Regions from separate parts of the Homo sapiens genome. Here region 1 is linked to region 2. Evidence: fine-mapped expression QTL. A gene starts in region 2. The other region holds a variant in brackets. All regions are shown on one strand. Distances are from middle to middle.

The links.
Region 1: its variant is fine-mapped to the expression of PLEKHH2 in thyroid (GTEx, PIP 0.98). The same link has a PIP of 0.9 or more in esophagus muscle and tibial nerve.

Annotation. Positions count from the first base shown.
Region 1 is chr2:43,704,153-43,715,952 of GRCh38, forward strand. It overlaps PLEKHH2 (pleckstrin homology, MyTH4 and FERM domain containing H2), which reads left to right. Exons shown (of 30, transcript NM_172069.4): 10 at 2,170-2,264; 11 at 3,249-3,393; 12 at 5,838-5,974; 13 at 6,068-6,178; 14 at 6,337-6,423; 15 at 8,073-8,231. Among named protein-coding and RNA genes, the nearest start is that of C1GALT1C1L, 34 kb to the left of the region's middle. RefSeq lists a silencer at 10,873-11,072. The variant C/A (reference allele first, on the strand shown) is at 7,267.
Region 2 is chr2:43,632,151-43,643,950 of GRCh38, forward strand. It overlaps PLEKHH2 (pleckstrin homology, MyTH4 and FERM domain containing H2), which reads left to right and starts at 5,110. Exons shown (of 30, transcript NM_172069.4): 1 at 5,110-5,229. RefSeq lists a silencer at 5,014-5,343.

The sequences.
Region 1 (11,800 bases), 72 kb after region 2:
AATACTGTATGATTCCACCTAAAGGAGGTGTTTAAAGGGTCAAATTCATAGGAATAGAAAGTAGAATGGCGGTTACCAGGGTCAGGGTGTGCGTGGAGAAGCGAATTTATTGTTTACTGGGTATAGCATTTCAGATTTGCAAAATGAAAAAGTTCTAGAGGTCTGTTTTACAACAGTGTGAATACACTTAACATTACTGAACTGTACAATTAAAAATGATTAAGATGGGCCGGGCACGGTGGCTCGCGCCTGTTATCCCAGCACTTTGGGAGGCTGAGGCAGACAGATCACGAAGTCAGGAGATCAAGACCATCCTGGCTAACACGTTGAAACCCCATCTCTACTAAAAATACAAAAAAAATTAGCCGGGCGTGGTGGCGGGCGCCCATAGCCCCAGCTACTCGGGAGGTTGAGGCAGGAGGATGGCGTGAACCGAGGAGGTGGAGCTTTCAGTGAGCTGAGATTGTGCCACTGCACTCCAGCCTGGGTGACAGAGCAAGATTCTGTCTTAAAAAAAAAAAAAAAAAAAAAAAAGATTAAGATGGTAAATTTTATGTTCTGTGTTTTTTCCCACAATAAAAAAAGTTTAGAAAAGTGATTTGCATTGCTATTTCATTCGCTAAGAACTTCCTAAATGTCTAAATTCATTGGAATAAAGAGTTGTGTAAACTTTCAAAAAATGATTTCTAGGGTTGCTGATTTGTATTTTAAAATTGAAATTCATCTTAGTGTGGGGACTCAAATACACTCAACTCTGATGTATATTTTTTTACCTGAGAGAGACTAAATCAGAGAAACTGTGGCATTTCAGCTGTTTAAAATGGTAAAAATATAGGCTTCTATGTCCTTTTTTCCCAGAATTTAAAACACATTTCCCCTTTCTTTATTTCTTCCAAAAAATTCTTATGGAAACAATGCATGCTCATTACAAAAAATAAAACCAAACAACAAGAACTGTCTGGAATAACAAGAAATTTTCCTGTGGTTCTTTCTACCACCTCCTCCCTATCCCACCACTAATTCATATGTTAGGGGTAACTATTGATATTCAGTTCCTGTTCAGCTATCTGCAGTTCTTTCCATTCAGGAAATTTTATCCTTTTTTTTTTTTTTTTTTTTTTGAGGCAGCGTCTTACTCTGTCACCCAGGTGGGAGTGGAGTGGTGTGATCATAGCTCACTACCGCCTTGAACTCCTGGGCTCAAGCGATCCTCCTGCCTCAGCCTCCTGATTAGTTAGGATGACAGGTGCATACCACCATGCCTTGATACTTTTTAAGATTTTTTGTGGAGATGGGGGTCTCACTGTGTTGCCCAGACTGGTCTCAAACTCCTGGCCTTAAGCAATCCTCCTGCCTCAGCTTCTCAAGGTGCTAGGATTACAGGTGTGAGCCACTACACTTAGCTAGGAAATTACATTCCAATATTTCAACATCAGATTTACCTGATAAAGGCTTAAGAACAGTGGTTTTGGTTTTGGTTTTTGTTTGAGAACAAGTCTTGCTCTGTCGCCCAGGCTGTAGTGCAGTGGCATGATCTCGGCTCACTGCAACCTCCCCTTCCCAGGTTCAAGCAATTCTTGTGCCTCAGCCTCCCAAGTAACTGAGATTACAGGTGTATGCCACCATGTTTGGTTTTAGTAGAGAAAGGGTTTTGCCATGTTGCCCAGGTTGGTCTCAAACTCCTGGGCTCAAGCGATCCACTGCCTCAGCCTCCCAAAGTCCTGGGATTACAGATGGGAACCACCATGCCCCACCAGAACAGTGGTTTTGATACCATGCTGGTAATAGGGTTATGAATAGTCAGAGAATATCTTCCTATGTACTGCTTACTGAATTGGTTGGTAAGCAGTTGCCTGTACTTAGTTCTGCCCAGCCTGAGCAAAGCATGCATGGAGATTTCAAGGAAATAAAAGCTATGGTTCTTGCTCTCAAAGAGCTTGCAGTCTAGTTGGGGAACTAGCACACATGAGGAAATAATGAACCATGTAAAAAAGTGTATAAATAAACCTGTAAATGCCATAATCTGTAAAGTAGACTATACAGTTAGTAATCATGTATTAATCGAATTGCTTTTTAAATGGAGATTATGCTCATTTGTATTCATAAGAAAAAGACCAATGTGCTAATTAGAAGTTTTTTAAAATGTTGTTTCCTGTTTTTCTGTTTCAGATTCTGCTGCAACCCTTTCCTATACTACATCAGGACTTTATACATCTCTGATATACAAGAACATGACCACCCCAGTGTATACAACTTTGAAGGGGGTAACTCATTATTGTTATTGTTAAAACATGTGCTTCTCTTCATGATGGATCAAGGAAATTGTTAATTCAAGCTCCAGATTCCATTCTTAACATTTTACACAGGCTCTCCCTTTATAGAAAGTTTTACAAGTTCACGTTAACATATCATAAAAAAGAAGGAATGGAAAGGTCTGCAGAAGACACTTATCAGAATGTTAGAGGTCTGAGTCAGTTTTTACTGTGTCCCATGTGATTCCCCCACCTCCCCATGGCCATGAATTGTTTAAAGGAGACATATTATTAATAATGTAATGAAAACTCCTAATTTAGGCAGATCTTTGTATCAGTGCCAGGGTACCCCTTCCTTGCTTGAAGTATTAATTAAAAGAAGGATTGCAGGTATTGACAACCTTATATTTTCAGGCATCTTTTATAATTGCTTATTAGAATTCAGGGTTTAACAACATGATTTTGATAACAGCAAAATACATTCCCAAATTCCTTTTAAAAATCATATGCTGGCTGGGCACGGTGGCTCACGCCTGTAATCCCAGCACTTTGGGAGGCCGAGGCGGGCGGATCACGAGGTCAGGAGTTCGAGACCAGCCTGGCCAACATGGCGAAACCCTGTCTCTACTAAAAATATAAAAATTAGCCGGGCGTGGTGGCAGGTGCCTGTAATCCCAGCTACTCAGGAGGCTGAGTCAGGAGAATCGCTTGAACCTGGGAGGCGGAGGTTGCAGTGAACCGAGATCATGTCATTGCACTCCAGCCTGGGTGACAAGAGCAAGACTCCACCTCAAAAAAAAAAAAAAAAAAAATTCTATGCTATGACTTCTTCCTGTAAAACTTTCTGTTATCTAAAAAGAGTGATAACCTTAGGGATGGATACAGGGAGGTTGCTCTGCTTTTCTTTAGGAGGCGACCCTAATAACTAGCAGCCTTTTCTTGGATGAGTGGTAACATTAGGGATGGATACAGGGAGGTTGTTCCACTTTTCTTTAGAAGGCGACCCAAATAAGTAGCAGCCCTTTCCTGGATGACTCATCTGGGTCAGAGGAAGAAGACAGCTCCAGATCCAGCTCCCGGACGTCAGAGTCAGACTCACGCAGTAGGAGTGGGCCAGGCAGCCCCAGAGCCATGAAACGAGGTGAGGGAAAATCGCAGGCATATGAGGCAACTCCAGATCATTCTGAATATTAATTGGGAATTTTATCTCCATTACAGGATTATTTTTTAAATCCAAGAACTTGCTTCAGACCCTAGTGAAAAGAACTTTAGCCTATGACTGATATGTTTATATTCCTAATTCTCTTCTTAATTCTCTGTGATTTCAGACAAATTATATAGTTTTTTTTTTTCAGCTTTTTATTGTCTGTGAGAGGGAGATCACTTTATTGTTGGAATGAAGTGAGATAATTGGCCAAAATGAGGTTTCTTTCTTGGCATTTGTGAAATAGACTTATTTCAGCTAAAGTTGTTACACTGCTAACTGGCAGAAAATATACCTTAAAATTTGTCAATTAATCTGATGTTAAAGTGGAGAACAACATTTACTTGGAATATGTCTATGATTTTTAGTGGATTTTGAAGACATTCTGTGTGTAGGTAGTGGTTACAGAGAGATCTAATTCCACCAAATGACATCTGTATGTTATAAAAAGCCCTTAATGCAGCATGGTGTGTCTGTTGGCTTTCAAACTGTGTTCCATGGAACCTCTGGATACTTCCAATCCCCTCGGCTTCAACTGGAGCTGCTCAGCCTTCCTTGGTTTCATATTTTGAGCTTCCACTGGTCTTCTTGCTCTCAACTTGCCCCGCTACAGCCAGAATCAGGTTATGACACACTTTTGCTGGAAACACTGCAGTGGCTCCTCACAACGGCTATAAGGTGTTCCAGGATTCGGTCACGTACTTGACCTCATCTCCTTTCTTCTCTGTACTCAGCTCCAGTCTCACTGGCCCTCTTGCTGTTCTGAGACATGCCAGGCATGCTTGCATTTCAGGACCTTGGCACTGCTGTTTCCTCCAGCTGGTATTCTTCCCCTAGATGTCCGTATAGCTGACTCCCTCACCTCCATCAGCAAACGCTGCTTTCTCAATGAGGTCCACCCTGACCACACCACTCAAATTGCAGCCCTTTGTCTTTCTTCTGTTGCCAGCTCTTTTTATTCCCTTTAGTCTGCTCTATGTTTTATTGTTCCATACCACCTACTGCCTGTTTGTCAGTGGTCTCCTTCCGCTAGAATTTGTTCCACGAGAGCCAATATTTTTGTTGTTTGCTCTATCCCTAGCATCTAGGACAGTGCCTGGCACACTGGCCCTGGTCCTGGGAGCCTGAGACTTGTGTTCCAACATTGCCCCTGCCTAACTCTTTGACTTTGGACAAATCCTTTAATCTCTGGGCCTTAGTCTCCTTGGGCCTTAGCCATGACAATCACTGAGGTCCCTATAGGTCTACATTTTTGTTTATTCTATGAAAAATGAAGATATTATAGCAACTGTTACTTGTCTGAGTCAAATAAAAAGCAGTGTCACAAGAGTGGCATTGTTCTAATATGTCCCTTAAATGTTAATACATATTTTTAAAAATTGCTGGATACTTTTATAAATAATTACCTAAGTCCTTGATTTTATTTAATATATTCTAAATCTCCAATTGTAGTGACTCATGAAATGTGGCTTGCAACTCCCAGGTAGTTTTCTGTAAAGGCAAATGAATCATTGTATAAATGTTCCATTGAATTTTATGTTATAGCTGCTGGCAAGTGAAAGAAATAGTTTGTTTATATCTTTCAATCTTATTGTTTCTCTTTTATGAAATATTTTTAAAATCTGTAAACTGCTTAGTAGCTTATGGAACTTGAATGAAAAAATACTACTGAATTGTGTTTTTTTAAAATGTGAGGTTACTTTAAAAGTGATTACAGAAGTTAAGAAATTTAAAATGTGATTGTGAAAATCTTGATAAATTAAGGTTCAACATTTGTTTGCCTATATGTCAATGTGTAAATACACATATTTTTAATTCTTAATAAAATATACATGAGTAGACTCTTGCATATATTTTATATATGTAAAATAGCTGTGTGATTGTAATCATACCAAAATATTATTCCTGTTCCTTTCACTTCCTTAGAGATTTACATGACAGTCCCTACCTCTTAGTTCTGTTTTCTGCTTTAAAAGTTCTTCATGTTGGGAGGCCAAGGCAGGCGGATCACGAGGTCAAGAGATCGAGACCATCCTGGCCAACATGATGAAACCCCATCTCTACTAAAGATACAAAAATTAGCTGGGCGTGGTGGCGCACACCTGTAGCCCCAGCTACTCGGGAGGCTGAGGCGGGAGAATCGCTTGAACCCAGGAGGCAGAGGTTGCAGTGAGCCGAGATTGTGCCAGTGCACTCCAGCCTGGTGACAGAGCGAGACTCTGTCTCAAAAAAAGTTATTTATGGCCAAAGGAATGAGAATAAATCTAGTCTAGGGAGGCTTATGATTTAGGAATAATTGCATTCTGTAGGAGCACTCAGAGCTGGTGTTTGGCCCTCCCCAGTATTAAATACTGACTTGATTTCTTTCTTTGTTCTCTTAGGTGTGTCTCTCTCCTCTGTGGCTTCTGAAAGTGATTATGCTATTCCTCCTGATGCTTACTCCACAGACACGGAGTACTCACAGCCAGAGCAGAAGCTCCCAAAAACTTGCTCATCTTCCAGTGATAATGGGAAAAATGTAAATATTGAATATGATTTTTAAAAAGCAGTCAGTCAGATTGAGCCTCCAAAAGGAAACTGAAAATGCTTTTGTCTATCTTTTAAAAATTAGGAACCACTGGAAAAATCTGGTTATTTATTAAAAATGAGTGGTAAAGTCAAGTCTTGGAAGCGGCGGTGGTTTGTTCTTAAAGGTGGTGAATTACTTTACTACAAATCTCCGGTGAGTGGAAAGTGTTTTCTGTTTAGAACGTAATTCCTCAAACTATAAATCAGACGCCTGATTGATTTCCTTCCCATAATGCAAGTAATGATACAAAGCATTCCTTATTATTACTGTTAAAGTTAATCACTTTCCATTTGTTTTTCTGTTTCATACAGAGTGATGTAATTAGAAAACCCCAGGGCCATATTGAACTTAGTGCATCCTGTAGTATTTTAAGAGGAGATAACAAACAAACAGTTCAGGTACTTAACTTTTTTTTTTTTTTTTTTTTTTTTGTATCATGCCAGACTCAATTCTCAATTATCCAACCTAATGGAAAGGAGATAGGATAATTCAGTGTTTCTTTATTCACTTTGGGGGGTTAGTTTGATGCCTTGGAAGTATGTGAAACTCCACGAATTTTTGGTTAAAACTATAATGTAAGTTAGGTGTGTGTTGAGTAACTCCCACCACACTTTACCTTTCTTCCTTTATACTCTTCTTTCCTCATATTTAATCTCCTAGGTATTTTCAGCTGTCCAACTGTGAAGCTATTTTAAGGAAGGGTTATCTGGTAAATGAATTCTCAATAAGATGTTAGTTATATAATGTACTGTGAAATTCAGGAATGTTTGTATTTTAATATAGAATCTGAAAATGACAGTTCTTATATGAACTTCAGATGCCATAACACCAAAGTGGGAAATATATTGGTGAGCAGAGGGAGTGTGCTGCCAAGCAAGTCACACTGTAGGGGCAGCTGCTGCCCATTTTACTCACACATAAGGCCAGTCTTGCCAGAAATCTGTTAAATTTAAAACACAGGCTGTTGAGATATTCTAGTATATGTAATTTAAAGTCAGACACTTTATTTCTGAAATGTCTTCAATAACCATTATTTTCTTATATTGCTCCTTTGGAGGGTGGAGGACAACTTTGCCAGAAAGGTACATTATCAATGTTTCCAGTGATTTGTACCTGAAAACCTCTCAAAAATTTAGAAAGGAGAATCAAGGAAAGCTTTGTCTTTGGGCATGGCAGTTAAGAATCATTTGTAAGTTTCTGAAATTTGGAAAATTTGCAGTGTGGCTAATTTGAGACTGGAA[C/A]ATTCTGAGTTCATAATATCTAATCACATGTTCGTTCCAATAATTTATCTTCTTATATGCAAGATCTTCTTATTTTATTTATAGTTGATTTTGTCATTTGTATTAAGAAACCTCTTCTTTAGTTGCTAAAACTATGCTATTTTATTATAGTCTTTAATCATTCTGCTCCTCATTTCAATAAGTAGGAACCTGGCCGGGCGCGGTGGCTCACGCCTGTAATCTCAGCACTTCAGGAGGCTGAGGCAGGCGGATCATGAGGTCAGGAGATCGAGACCATCCTGGCTAACACGGTGAAACCCCGTCTCTACTAAAAATTCAAAAAAAATTATCCGGGCATGGTGGCAGGTGCCTGTAAGTCCCAGCTGCTCGGGAGGCCGAGGCAGGAGAATGGTGTGAACCCAGGAGGCGGAGCTTGCAGTGAGCCAAGATGGCGCCACTGCACTCCAGCCTGGGCGACAGAAAGAGACTCTGTCTCAAAAAAAAAAAAAAAAGAAAAGTAGGAACCTGTAACACATTTAAGCAAGAAAGGGAAAATGTGACAAATAAACAAGATATAAAATCATAACCCCAAAATTAGGTAAACTGGAGTAACAAAGTTATTTCCACAAAAATTTAATTGCTGTAATTCTCACAAAGTGGTTAAAATATTCTAACTGATATGGAGTCATTTATTTAGAAACTGGGACTTGAGATTTAGCATGTTTGCTTCTGTGTTAAGTAATGACGTTTGAATAATGAACAAGGAAATGCTAACAATCCTAAATCTTCACAGTTTTCTTTCCTATACCTTTCTCGTTGCATTCTAGTTGACCACTGAAAAACACACATACTATCTGACTGCAGATTCTCCCAATATATTGGAAGAGTGGATTAAAGTGTTACAGAATGTTCTTCGAGTACAAGCTGCCAACCCACTTTCCCTGCAGCCTGAGGGCAAACCCACCATGAAGGGATTGCTCACTAAGGTAGGAACCTCCTGTGCATAGCAATGTCCCAGGCAGCTATGGGCATGAGCCCATGATCGCTGAAAATGGGATGTCAGAGCATATACATATATTGAATATTGATATGATCTTGGGGATAGGAAAGGGTGTTTTTAAGTATGATGCCCAAGGCAAAAACTATAAAGATGAAAAGAAGACAAATTTGACTATAATATGTAAAAATGTAAAGGCTCTATTAAAAATTCTACGAGCAGAATTTTTAAAAGAAGGATTGAAAAACTTTGAAGAGGTATTTGAAACATGTGAAAACTGGTTAATATCATTAATATTTAACACGTTTTTTTCTAATCAGTAAGCAAACAATGAACACCAATTGGGGGAAAAGGAACAAAAGACTCAATGGGCAGGAAAGAGAGATCATCGAGGTTAGAAGGAATACAAATGATCAATAAGCATATGGAAAAACATTTTACTGTCACTCAATTTTTTTAAAAGCACAGATTGAAATAAGAGGTGGCACTTTTTAAAATCTGGTGAAAAGTAAGACGTTTTTACAAATTTTGAAACCTAGTATTGACACAGATTAAAAAATCTGCTAGTTTCTGCAATTACATAGGCAGTAGAAAAAAAAAGAAATCTGCTAGTGAGAGCATTACTCTAAAAGGCAGTTTGGCAATATCTTGGCTGAAGTGTTAACTTAGCCAATAATTTTGAGTGAACAAATCAATATCAAATCAACACACACACACACACACGCATATATATCTCCTTTGATCCAGCAATCTCAGTTTTAAAAATTTATCCTTAGGAAGTGGTCTTAATTTGCAAAAGATTTAATTATGAGATGTTCCTCACAGCATGTTTTTTTTCCTATTTTAAAAAATGAGGTATGATTAATATATCTGAAATGCACAGATCTTAAGTGTAGAGTTTGACTAGTTTTGAAAGCTATTTACTTTTGACTCTATCAAGATGCAGAACATTTCCATTACCCCAGAAAGATTCCTTGCACAGCATGGTTCATAATAAAGAAAAATTGGGATCAAATTAGATGTAGGGTAAGGTATAGCTTTAAAAAATGTTTGTACAACCATATAATGCTTTACTATGCAGCCTTTTAAATGTTGTAAAAGAATATCTAATGCTATAGAAATATGATGTATTGTTAGGTAATAAGTAGAGTGCAGTATTACATTATTATACCTTATTTGTTGTAAGTATTTATAGAAAAATGTCTGGGAAATATACCAAAGTATATTGGTTATCTCTGTGATTTTATTTATTTTTGCTTAATTCTGTTTTTTTTTTTTTTACAATGAGTAAGTATTGACTTAATATTATTTTTAAGTTTTAAAAAGTCCTATTGGTCACTTTTTGAAAAATACAACAAAATATGTATACACACATAATCACTCCTCATTCATGTACTCTGATTATGTAAGAGGTGGAAAATTAGATGGAAAGTAACTATGCTACTGTGTAGTTTATACTTATTATTAATGTGGGAATGTAGGTGGGTGTTATTCCATAATATTTAAAAAGACTGACCAACTATAGCAAAGGTAAAACTTAATTCACTATTGCATTAAACAAAGAAATATACTATGTACTATGTTTTTTCTAAAATACGACTGTGAAAATGTTTTCTTAGTTACTGATGGGTTAGGGAACAAAATATTTGCACAATACTTTTCCAGTGAACACACTGCTACTTTAAATCACATTCTTACTATAATTCATAATAATGAGCTATGCTCTTGTTTCAAGGACCTCATATGCATATCAAACCCTGAGAGTTTAAGATGATCCCATGGCTAAGGGTTTATTACTTCCCCCACAATTAGGATTTTGTTTGCTTGCTTGTTTTTACTTTATCAGCAAGGCATGTCAGTTTCTGCTCCTATAACATTTCTGCGATTCTCCACTTCCCATTTCACAATTGCATTTTAAATGAGTATGAGTCGATGGGATTCTCAGATGACTAAATCATTAGGGTTTATAGCCAGGATGCTTATTAAGTTTCCTTCCTGCCATTTGTGCTTGTCCACCCCCATATTTTCACCCTTAGAACCTTATGAGAGAACAGCTTCCCTCAGTTATTCTGAGTGACTTGTTCTGAGCTCACATTCAGGCTGCAATATGAGATACTGTCAAATTGCATTTGAATACCTTGGAGGGGAGGAAGTTTTCTCAGGTTGTCACATTGTTTTTATTAAGTACAGAATAATATAGGTAGATGCTAAGAACTTGACTAATTTGATTCTAGACAGTCACTCTTGCAATTTTTATTTTAATGCTTAGGAAAAACATTTTCTATATAAAAATTCAGTTCTTTAAAAAACGAAAATGTATTACGCAGTTACCACATGCAGCACAATGTGCTGAAAGATACTAAGATGAATAGGCCACTGTCCCATTCCTCAGAGAGCCTCATAATCTATTAAAAAAGAGGGAGACAAAAGCTTATTTACAATGATATAAAGTACAATTATTGAGATGTGTCAGTAATGACTTCTGAGAGAAGATTTACCTGTGCCGAGTCTTCAAGGAGGAGTAGGAGTTAGTTATACCAAGTGGGAATGGGTGGAGGGGTGGTACTCTAGGCTAGGAGACAGCGCGAATGAAGGCTTAGAGTCTTGAAGCAGTGGCTTATGCCTGTAATCCCAGCACTTAGGGAGGCTGAGGCAGGCAGATCACCTGAGGTCAGAAGTTCGAGACCAGCCTGACCAACATGGTGAAAACCCGTCTACTAAAAATACAAAAATTAACCAGGCATGCTGGCGGGCACCTGTAATCCCAGCTACTCGGGAGGCTGAGGCAGGAGAATCGCCTGAACTTGAGAGATGGAGGTTGAAATCAGCTGTGATTGCAATGTTGCACTCCAGCCTGTGCGACAAATGAAACTCCGTCTAAAAAAAAAGAAAAAAAGAAAAAAAAAATCTCGAAGCAGTGCCAGCTGCACTAGGAACAAGTCCTTTGGAGAAAAAGCTAGAGGGGCCTATGGATGGTGGAAAGCTATTTTTGTCTTTTTAAGGACTTTGGTCTTTATCCTGAAGGATATTTGAAACCCTGCAGGGTTTGTAACAGGAGCATGGGCATATTCATGTTGCTAACAGATTACTCTGCTAAGAGGAAGATGAATCAGTGGGAGGCAAGGTGGAGGTTCTAAGAACAGTTAAGGGAGTGGTTCCTATGAAGAGGATGAAACTCTGAAGGGGTTACAGGAAAAGAGAGGAGAGGATGAATTTAAATAATGGTAAGAGGTAAAATCTTTAGTTTGATTGAATTTGGGGTTAGGAAGTAGAAGAGATAAAGATGCCTGGTAGAAAGATGATAGCAGATAAGAGAGAGCTCAGGAAAGAGGAGCAGTTTTAGGAAGATTAGGTGATTTTGGAAGACATCAGGAGCTGGTAGGATGTCTTAGTTAAAAAGTCCAGCAGGCAGCAGACCACCAGTCTACATCGGAGAAGAGTGCTGGAGGGCTGGATTGGAGAGAAGGATTCGAGGAATCATCAGCATACATGTGGCAATTATGGGAAATTATGTAGGGCAGGGGAGAGCAGGGTAACACTTGTAAATTTAAGGGCACA
Region 2 (11,800 bases):
CCTTCTGATTAACCAGTTCAAGTCCTGCCTCCCCATTGAGCATTCTGTACTTGTTACCATCCTGTTGACCTCAGCTTTCTCTGGAGTCTTTTGAAGACGCAGTTTCATTTTACAATTATTACACAGCACATAATAATGTTCTTATAGTGTGTCTTTTCTCTAACCGTTAGCATCAGGGGATATCGTGGTCAGTTTTGCTGCGTTGCTTTGTTCCCTTAATTCTGGCATAAGCTGTCTCTATGCACCATATAGAGAGAGAAGGAGGACTGTTAGCTGTCAGCCGTAATAAGATTCTGTACCAGAATGGCTGCCTTTGCCTGGTAGGTACTGACCCCAAGCAAGAAAAATAATCTGTTCACATTTAACACCTTTTTACTGTCTGGATCACTGTTTTCTTGTGTGATTTTCTTTTTCTTTCTTTCTTTTTCTTTTTTTTTTTTTTTTGAGACAGAGTGTGACTCTATCACCCAGGCTGGAGTGCAATGGTGAGATCTCAACTCACTGCAACCTTCACCTCCTAGGTTCAAGTGATTCTCCCTGCCTCAGTCTCCTGAGTAGCTGGGATTACAAGGGCATGCCACCACGCCTGCCTAATTTTTTTTGTATTTTTAGTAGAGATGGGGTTTCACCATGTTGGCCAGGCTGGTCTTGAACTCCTGACCTCGTGATCCGCCCTCCTTGGCCTCCCAAAGTTCTGGGATTACAAGCGTGAGCCACCCTGCCCAGCTTTCCTGTGTGATTTTAATGTCCAGTGTCTTTTTTTCTTTTTTTTAACTTCATGGGTCCTGAACAAACTATTACTGGCTCTCCCTCAGTCTGGTTCAACAATTCTTTTCCTCTTTTCAGTTGCCTTAAAATAAGTGGTGCTCAAAGTACCCACCTCTGTGCTTTTGTTATGCTTCTGTACACACTTGTTTTCTTTTCATGACCTTAGCAATGCCCATTAGTCTCTCACCTTCACCAGTTCTGGCACCACCTATGCTACCCCCAACCAATCTGTGATAGTGGGGGCCCAGCTCACCTGGGGAGGTGAGATTGAAGCAAATCCTGCCTTCGTTGCAGACCCAAAGGACTGAGCAAGCCAGTATGCTCTGGACACTGGGGACACATCAAAGAAACTGTTTTCCTGGTCCACCCCCACTGGGAGGGCCAGGATGCTTGTCTGTCTCCTTGTTTGTAGGGCCTCCTTCATGCCAAGGCTTTTCTGGTCTCCTAGGTTGCAGGTAAACAGCCTGGAGTGCCCAGACCTGTACCCTCCTCAGCTAGAGAGAGCTGTTCCTGCTAGCTCTATTCATTTTTCCAAATCTTCCCCTTGTCTTTGATATCTTTTCCCAGGTGCTGGGGTTTATACTTTCTCCGTGCCAGAAGCCACAAGCTTATTCTAGTGGAGATAGTGTCTCCGCCCTCCTTCTTTCTTTTTGGATTTTATGTGTGGTGGATTAAAGGATCAGATACTTATTCCCTGATATTTACCCAGCTCCGTACCTCTTTTCCCTTCAACCCCTCTGTCCTTGCTCCCAATGTGCCAAATGGCCACATGGCCAGCAATCATTCTACAATTTACAGTAATCTCCCCCTATGCAGAAGTATACGTTGAAATGTACACCCAAATTCAAACCTTCTCCCCAGCTCAGCCTGACTGATTTTCTCTTGGCTCTCTCCTGGATATTTCACTCGCACCTCAAGTTGTGCTCAGTACCTCCAAGCCAGATCTCATTCTTCTTGTTCCCTCTCCTTGCTTCCTTACTTTTGTAAATGGCACCATCATTTCCTGATAATGCAGACACAAAGCCTCCCTTCTAATCCGCCTTCTAATCAGCTGTTAGACCTTGTAGGTTCAATTTCTTGAAAGAAGTTGAGATGTATAAACAGTTCCTGATTTACGGTGGTTTGACTTATGATTTTTGCTAGATACTGGATATACATTAAAGAGCAAAAACAGTTGTTCTACTTTTCTGGCACTTACAGTCTTGTGGGGGGGAAAACAGACAAAATAATCACAAATAAACATAATATCACAATTTAGATTAATGCTTATAAAACAAAGGTGCCTATTGCTACTAACATTTTCTATCCCTGCTACCTAACGTAAAAACACAAAATTCAACATGTTTTTCTTTTTTAAAACATCTTTATTGAGATATAATTCAATAACATCCAGTTTATCCATTTAAATTGCGTATGTCCATGGCTTTTTGTATGTTCAAAGTTGTGTAATCATCACCATAAATGTTTTTATTATCGCAAAAATAAACCTCACTTGTCTTAGCCATCACCCCGATCCTTCCCAGCCCTAAGCAACCACCAATCCACTTATGTCTCTATGGATTTGCCTGTTCTGAACATTTCATGTAAATGGGATCCTACAGTATGTGCCTTTTAAATGACTGGCTTCTTTCATTAAGTATAATGTTTTCAAGGTTTATCAATGTTGTAGCATGTATCAGTACTTTATTTCTTTTTACCACTGAATAATATTCCATTGTACCATGTGTTTTTCTCAGCATAGACAAAGATAGGATGCTGTTCCGCTGTATTCTCCATACCCAGACAAATTCAGTTTGTCATGTTTCTAGAAAAAGGTGACAGTAAGTAAATATTGGCTAAGCCTTACAAGGGTGGCAGCCGTGTTTACAAAGCGGCTTTTCATGAGTGACTTTATTCACTCAGTTCTTTTAGTCTAATTAGTATTTCTGACTCACAAACGGAAGTGATTCTATTTTGGCATTCTTTCTCTCTTTCTCCTGCTTGGTCTCTACTGACTTGCTGTGTTAAATTATGCAAGTTACTGAAACTCTGTTTGTTTAACTCCTGCGTGCTCTATAAAATAAGCCCAGTCCAGTCTGCTTGTTTGCCAAAGCTGTTTGAAGACAATTTTTCATATGATATGCATCATCAGCTCCCACAGAAGGCAAAAGGAATTTGATGTGTGGGGGTAGTCTGGGATCCTGTTCAAAATTAATGCTCATCTGGAAGAAATATGAAAGCCTGATACTTGCTTACTGGACTTTTAGTTGTATTCACTTATTGCTTTTCCTCTGAGAAACTTTGAAAATCTTTATCTCTTTTGTGGTTTTTTCTTTCCTTTTTTTTGAGACAGAGTCTTGCTCTGTCACCCAATCTGGAGTGCAGTGGTGCGATCTCAGCTCACTGCAACTGCTGCCTTCCTGGCTCAAGCGATTCTCCTGTCTCAGCCTCCTGAATAGCTGGGATTACAGGCGTATGCCACCATGTTCAGCTAATTTTTGTATTTTTAGTAGAGATGGGGTTTCGATATGTTGGCCAGGATGGTCTCAAACTCCTGACCTCAAGTCATCTGCCCGCCTTGGTCTCCCAAAATGCTGGGATTACAGGCATGAGCCACTGTGCCCATCCTCTGTGTGTGTGTGTGTGTGTGTGTGTGTGTGTGTGTGTGTGTGTGTGTGTTTTATATAAGATGAGATAAAGTTAAAAAAAAAAAGATTGTAGTAGAAAAAGTTTTTCTGATACTCTCTATTGGCCAACTGTGAACCAAAGAGAATAATCTGTCTGACCTAGCTTTGTGACCTGGGGAACGATTATCCATAACATTCAGAATTCTCTTTATTTTACCCTGAGATTGACCTCTCCAGACCCTAAGTTGGGATGTAAAATTCACCTGGATTTAAATTATCACTAATTTACTTATGCAATATGCTCTGTGCTGAGGAGAATGCAAAAAAAAAAAAAAAACCACAAATCCTTGTTTTCAAAGTGCTCACAGTCTAAAAGAGATGTGAGGAGCTGTGCATAAGGCAGAGGGAGCTAAGCCCCAAGAGAGGCAAAAATCTAGATGTTCAGGGAGCAGAAACCAGAGAAGACCTTTTTTTTTTTTTTTGTCTCAGATGGAGTCTTGCTCTGTAGGCAGGCTAGAGTGCAGTGGTGCTATCTTGGCTCACTGCAACCTCCGCTTCCCAGGTTCAAGCGATTCTCCTGCCTCAGCCTCCCGAGTAGCTGGGACTACAGTCGTGCACCACCACGCCCAGCTAATTTTTGTATTTTTAGTACAGACCAGGTTTCACCATGTTGGCCAGGATGGTCTCGATCTCTTGACCTCGTGATCTGCCCTCCTCGGCCTCCCAAAGTGCTGGAATTACAGGCATGAGCCACTGCGCCCGGCCCAGAGACGACATTTCTGCCAGGTGGAGCGACAGACATAGTTACATGGAGAAGATGATGATGATGATGATGATGATAATGATGATGATTTGAGACAGGATCTCGCCCAGTCGCCCAGGATCCAGTGCAGTGGCATGATCGCGGCTCACTGCAGCCTCCATCTCCTGTGTTTAAGCAATCCTCCAGCCTTAGCCTCCTGAGTAGCTGGGACTACAAGTGAGCGCCACCAAGCCCAGCTAATTTTTTTTTTTTGTGTGTATATATATATATATATATATATATTTTTTTTTTTTTTTTGGTAGAGACAGGGTTTCACCATGTTGCCCAGGCTCGTCTCGAACTCCTGGCCTCAAGTGATCCACCTGCCTCGGTCCCCCAAAGTACTGGGATTACAGGCGTGAGCCACTGCGCCCGGTGAGAAGATTATTCTGAGCTTTTTGAAGTGGAGACAGGAAATAGCATGTAAACGCTCCTAGTGCCACTTCCTTCGGGTGGCGAGGTGCACAGCAGTAGTCTCAGGTGTGTGAAGGGCAGCTGTGAGAAATAAACCTGAAAAGACGGGATGGAGACCTTGAACACTAGACTAGGGAATCTGTTCTTGATAATTTAAGCAAACGGAAGCCAATGAAAGTCTTTGGCACACTGTTCATCAAAACTGCTCTTAAGGAAATTAACCTGGCAGGAAGATGAAGGGTGGATTGGCAAGAGGAGAGACTTCAGACTGGGAGACCAAGGGAGGGTGCTGCAACAGTCCAGGCAGACGGAGTGGAATGAAGGTGACCGGCCGCTGCAGCAAGCTCTGGAGTCTCGCAGTTGGGACGTTAGGGGTACCACTCCAGGACAGAGCTCCCTCCTGGGGCAGGGACTGGGAGGAGCCAAAGTTATAGCCACACCCCCGGTGACGCCCGGTGGTCGGCTGTGGTCTCCCATTGGCTACACCGGCTGCCAGTCCCTGGAGGAGGCGGTGCCCTTCCCCGCCCTCTCCGAGCTCGGCTTGAGGCGGGCGCGGGCTGAGAGTCCGGGGATCCCGGGGGCCAGTCGCGGCCGGGACATCGGGCGCTGCGGCCGGGGACCCGCTGCTGAGATAGACAGGTGAGAAAGCCCGGGGACGAGGGGCCACTCCAGAGTTCCTGCCACCCTGGGATCCCCGCCCCCTTGAGGGCGCCCCGTCCAGGGGGGCTCGCGGGGCCGAGGTTTGGGGCGCCGGGAGGAGCGGGAAGGCGGGGACGAGAGGGACGGAGCGGGCTGACTCGGGATCCGCCGCTGCACCTCCCGCCACAGCCCAGAGTCGGCCCCCAAGTCTGGATGTCGCCGGGAGAGGTGGGCAGGGGGCGGTGGCCGGCGGTCCCTCGCGCCCGTGGGCTCCCGTGACGTTCTGTTTGGAAACACTGGGCCCGGGCTTCTGGCGCGGCGCGAGCGGTCCCGGGGGCGCAGCGGGGCAGCCCAGGGTCCCCGAGCCGAGGGACCCGCGCGGTCAGGGATGCCGCGCTCGCCTTAGGCTTCGGGAGATCCACCAGGATCTCCGGGGCGAAACTTTAAACTCAAAACTTTAAAGAAGCATTTTGTACACCTCGAGTTGCTGGCACGTCAAAGCACCCTAAGGTGACCTACCCGGAAACCACTGTCCCCGAAGTTAGTGGGGCACTTTTTAAAGGACAACACTTTTTACCCGTCGATATTGTTGTGCGTAACGCTGTGGAAATAGAAGTCGAACCACTTACATTGGAAAAGCTCTGGTGGTGGGCTACCTGAGGGTCACTGCTTTCTTTGTGAAAATGCCAGTCTTGGAAGCCTGGCCCGCACAGCGGTGTGTCCCAGAGGAGTATGTAGTGAGGAGCTCGGCTGTTCTGGGCAGGGTCACCGAAGGGCAGGCGTTGCCCAAGTGGGGCTAGGTGGCTAGGTGGTGGTCAGAAGGTTCCTTAAACAAGGCATGCCTCAGTCTCGTCGAGAAAGATCTTTTAACACACACACACACACACACACACACACACACACACACACTCACACACACGATTACCCAGCCCAGTTAAGCTGTCCCTTAAGAGGCAAAAACTAAAGAATATCATAGAGACTAACGCTGCGCTTCATCAGGGTAAGCCTAAGTAGAATAATTCTTTCATTTCTTTTTCTTTCCTTTTTGGGATTTGGAAGAGAAACAGGAAGTCAGAGATTCAGAGAAAAGAGCATTCACTCCACAATTGTAAACAGTTTATCTTATGTCAGTAAATACTTCCAAAAATCACTGGGGGTATTTGGAACTCCAAGACTTTTTCCTGTCCCCTGAAGTGAAGATAGATTATTTTCAAATGCAGAATCTAGACATGATAGATTCCTTTCAAATTCAGAATCTATATGTGGTATTTTCTTTATTTAGCAGTCGGCTATGTTATATAGTTATATATATATTCCCAATGTTATATAGTTCTATAACATTAGTGGTAATGAAAAGGATGGCGGATATTGTTTAAAATTAGAATTTTTAACTACCCAAGATGGTGCACTAATACAACAGTTGCTTTGTACTTGTTAACTAACTGAAATTACAGAATGAAATGAGGGAATCAGGTGTCTGGATCTCAGTGCAGACCATTATCCAACCAATTTGCAGTTCTGATTTATTATGACCCATTAATAGGGAATGTAGATGTTAAATGCCAATTTAATAATATTCTTAAGGCTTTGCTACTTCACTATAAAATATATAATTAGCATAACTAAAGAAATAGGTATGTTTGACTTTGAATTAATTTATTATGTCATCATAGCAAAGTGCGCTAGGTAAGATATATGTATGATACTTTTCATATTTGGGGTTAACAGTTACCTCTCAATTTTTTGAGCTAATTGTGAAATTCTTGGCAGGGATAACCACAAATAATGGTTGATTAAATTTGTAAATGCAGTCCTAGTATACATCCATTTAAACTGCGACTTTTTCTTTAGTCATTTGTAAATATGTGATCTTTTTTATTGAGATCTTAATATAAGTCACAAACTATAAGATTTTTCCTTTTAAAGTATACAGTTCACTGGGTTTTGGTATATTCACAAGGTTGTATAGCCATCACCAATATCTAATTCTAGAATATTTTCATCACCCCAAAAAGAAACCCCCTATCCATTGTAGTCAGTATCTGCTACCTTCTCCTCACAGCCCTTGGCAACCACTAACCTACTTTCTGTCCTTTGGATTTGCCTCTTATGGACATTTCATGTAAATGGACTCATACAATATGTGGCCTTTTGTGTCTGGCATCTTTCACTTAGCATAATGTTTTCAAGGCTCTTCCATGACTATAGCGTGTATTAGTACTGTATTCCTTTTTTATGGCCGAATAATATTCCATTGTATGGATGTACCACTTTTTTTTTTTTTTTTTTTTTTTTGAGACAGAGTCTCACTCTGTCACCCAGGCTGGAGTGCAATGGCAGGATCTCAGCTCACTGCAACTTCTGCCTCCTGGGTTAAAGCAATTCTCCTGTCTCAGCCTCCCTAGTAGCTGGAATTATAGGCCTGCACCACCATGCCTGGCTAATTTTTGTATTTTTAGTAGAGACGGGGTTTTGCCATGTTGGCCAGGCTTGTCTTGAACTCCTGACCTCAGATGATCCACCTGCTTTTGCCCTACAAAGTGCTGGGATTACAGGAGTGAGCCACTGCACCCAGCCAGATCTACTACATTTTATTCATTCATCTGATGGTGGACACAGGCTGTTTCTACTCTTTGGCTATCATGAATAATGTTGCTCTGAACATTTATTTACAAGTTTTGGTGTGGATGTGTATTTCATCCCTTGGCATATGACCCCATCCCTTGGCATATGACCCAGCAACTCCAATGCCAAGTATAAAGTTACCAATACTTTATATTGATATACCAAATATAAAGTTACTCCAATAACTTGGTAACTTTATATTTAAACTTTTTTTTTTTTTTGAGACGGTGTCTCACTCTTGTCACCCAGGCTGGAGTGCAGTGTATGATCATAGCTCACTGCTCAAGTGATCCTCCCACACAGGGCTCCCGAGTAGCTGGGACCACAGGTAAGCTCCCCGACGCTTAGCTGATTTTTAAATTTTTTGATAGAGATGAGGTCTTGCTATGTTGCACAGTCTGGTCTTGAACTCCTGACCTCAGAGATGAATTCTCCAACCTCAGCCTCTCAAACTGTTGGGATTACAGGCGTGAGCCACCATGCTGGCCTGTTTAAACTTTTCAGGAACTGTAAAACTGTTTACAAAGCAGCTGTACCATTTTTACATTCCCACCAACAATGTATGAGGGTTCCCATTTCTCTACATCCTCACCAACACTTGTTGTTAGATGTCTTTTTCATTAGAACATCCTATTTGATGTGAAGTGGAATGTTGTTGTGACTTTGATTTGCATTTTCTCTCATAGCAAATAATGTGCTTATTGGCCATTTGTATATCTTCTTTGGATAAATCTCTATTCAGATACTTTGCCCATTTTTATTTATTTATTTTTAATTTATTATTATTATTGTTTTTAAAGATCGGGGTCTCCCTCTGTCGCCCAGGCTGGAGTGCAGTGGTGTGAACATGGTTCACTGCAGCTTCGACCTCCTGGGCTCAAGTGATCTTCCTGCCTCAACCCCCAAGTAGCTGGGACTACAGGCCTGCACCACCATGCCTGGCTAATTTTTTTTTTTTTTTTTTTTTTAATAAAGACAGGGTTTTGCCACCTTGCCCAGGCTGGTCTCAAACTCATGAGCTCAGGCAGTCTAACCGCCTCGGCCTCCCAGAGTGCTGGGATTATAAGCATGAGCCACCACGTCCAGGCCTTTGCCCATTGTTTAATTGGGTTATCTTTTTTTATCGTTGAGTCCTAAGAGTCCTTTATATATTCTAGACACAAATCCCTGAGATACATGATTTGCAACTATTTTTCCCATTCTGTGGGTTATCTTTGCACTTTCTTGATAGTGTCCTTTGAAGGACAAAAATTTAAAAATTTTTATGAAGTCCAATTTATCTATTTTTTCTTCGATTCCTTGTGCTTTAGGTGTCATATCTAAGAATCTGTTGCCTAATCCAAGGTCATGAAGATTTATACCTCTTTTCTTCTAAGAGTTTAGAGCAAGCGTGTCCAACCTGTGGCCTGCAGGCCACAGGCAGCCCAGGATGGCTTTGAATGTGGCCCAAAACAAATTTGTAAACTTTCTTAAAGCATTATGAGATTTGTTTTGCAATTTTTTTTTTTAGCTCATCAGCTACCTTTAGTGTTAGTGTATTTTATGTGTGGCTCAAGACAATTCTTCTTCTAACGTGGCCCAAGGAAGTCAAAAGATTGGACACCCCTGGTTTAGAGCTTTGGCTGGTACCTGTAAGTTTGTGATCCATTTTGTGTTACTGTGTATATATGGTATGAGGTATGGGTCCACATTCATTCTTTTACATATGGATATCCAGTTGTCCCAGCATCATCTGTTGAAAAGACTATTCTTTCCCCCATTGGATGATCTTATCACTCTTGCCAAAAATCAATGTGAGGCTTTAATTCTGGACTTAACTTTATTCTGTTTATCTATATATCTATCTTTATGCAAGTACCACACTGTGTAATCAAGCTACTGTATAGCTTTGTAGTAAGTTTAGAAATAGTAACATGTGAGTCCTCCAACTTTTCAATTTTATTTTGTCTATTCTTCAGCCCTTGAATTTCCAGGCAAAGTTTGATCAGCTTGTCAATTTCTGCAAAAAATGCAGTTGCAACTTTGATAGAGATTGCATTGTGTGTATATAGCCATTTGCAAGTATTGCCATCTTCACAATATTAAGTCTTCTAATCCATGAATATACAATTTCTTCCATTTATTTAGGTATTTTTAAATTTCTTTCAGTGATGTTTTGTAGTTTTCAGTGCACACATTTTGCACTTCTTTTGTTAAATTCATTCCTAAATATTTTATTAGTTTTGATGCTATTGTAAATGGAATATTTTCTTATTTTCATTTTTGGATTTTTCCTTGCTAGTGTATAGAAAAACAACTGACTTTTGTATGTTGATCTGATTTCCTGAAACCTTGCTAAACTCTATAGTTTAGTATTTTTTTGTGGATTCCTTAGAATTTTCTATGCACATGATCATGTCATCTGTAAGTAGAGATAGTTTTATTTCTTCCTGTCCAATCTAGATGGTTTTTTATTTTATTGTCTTGCCCTGGCTATTATCTCTATTACAGTGTTGAATAGAAGTGGTGAGAAAAGACATCTTTGTCTTGTTCCTGATTTCAGGGAGAAAACTGTCAGTCATTTATCAGTAAGTATGATGTTAGCTGTGGGCTTTAGTAAACGTCCTCTATCAGGATGAGGAAGTTCCTGTCTATTTGTAGTTTCTTGAATATTTTTATCATGAAGGGGTGTTGGATTTTGTTGAATGATTTTTCTGTGTCTATTGAAATGATCATACGGTTTTTGTTCTTTATTCTTTTCACATGGTGCATTACATTGATTGATTTCAATTTGTTGAAAAATATCCACTCTTCATGTTATTTTTAAAACTGTGGACATTTTACTGTAGGACATAGGCAAGTTATTTTACATGTAGAGCAAAAATTAACCAGTATTAACCTATTAACAAATAGGTAAATAGACTCCTCTTATTCCTTAAGCTAGAAGAGTATCCCTACATTTCTGCGGAATGATATGGTAGTTCAAGACGTAAAGATGCCCCTTTCAGGCCTACTTTTTATTTTCTAGTATTGCATCCATATTTTCTTTCCCTGTTCGCTCTAAAGCTAATAAGGAGAAAAATGAAGCAGCCCCAGAACTGTGAACGTGTTTGTGATCGACAAACTGCATTATCTACTCCTAAATCATTGCTAGTAAATGCCAATGTGAATCATTAATCATAAATGCTAATATGGGTAATGGAAAAGGTTATTAACAAGGTTAATCTCCTTAGGAAAAACCTCAGGAAACAATGGGGCAAGGATTCTATGAAAACAAAGAAATGAAAATAAAATGACTTCCAGCTCTACAGTAATATGTTTCCTTTAAATTAAGGCTAGAATTTGGGGACATCTGAAGGCTTTAAGAAGCTGGGGTGCACTTAATAAATGTTGTAGTCTTTTAAGAACGATTCTGCTTATATTTATTTCTAACGTACTGAATATTGTCAGTATTAATGTGAAAATTGATTTAAGTACAAAACAATCTTCATGCTAGGAAAATAATCTTTTAGTGGGTTTTTAGCAGCATAAAGTTTTTAAAAACTGGTGTAGGATTAGGGAGGATTCTATATTACGCTAAATACTGGGAAAATCAATGTGGTTATATTTTTAGAAAACAAAAGAATAGAATAGTATACTTCAACTGCAGTTCCATTCCAGGGCTCTGAGAGTTTTGCTGTCACCGTTCTTCATAACTGAGGCTTTCCATTCCTAATGTAAATTTCATAGCAGGGCAGTTCATAGCAAGGGGAACTCAGAAATACATTATTAGGCTGCTTATTAAAAATAGCCTGATAAAATATTACCAAACATTTAAAACTACTTTTATGTATCTCAGAGCCAGAAACCATCATGCTTCCAAAATCAAGTAACACTTCAAAATTTCAAAACCAATTCCCTTGCATCTTGTCCTCCCCCTTACAGTGCTTCTCCCTGCAATTAATATCCTCCCAAAGGAAAGTTAATA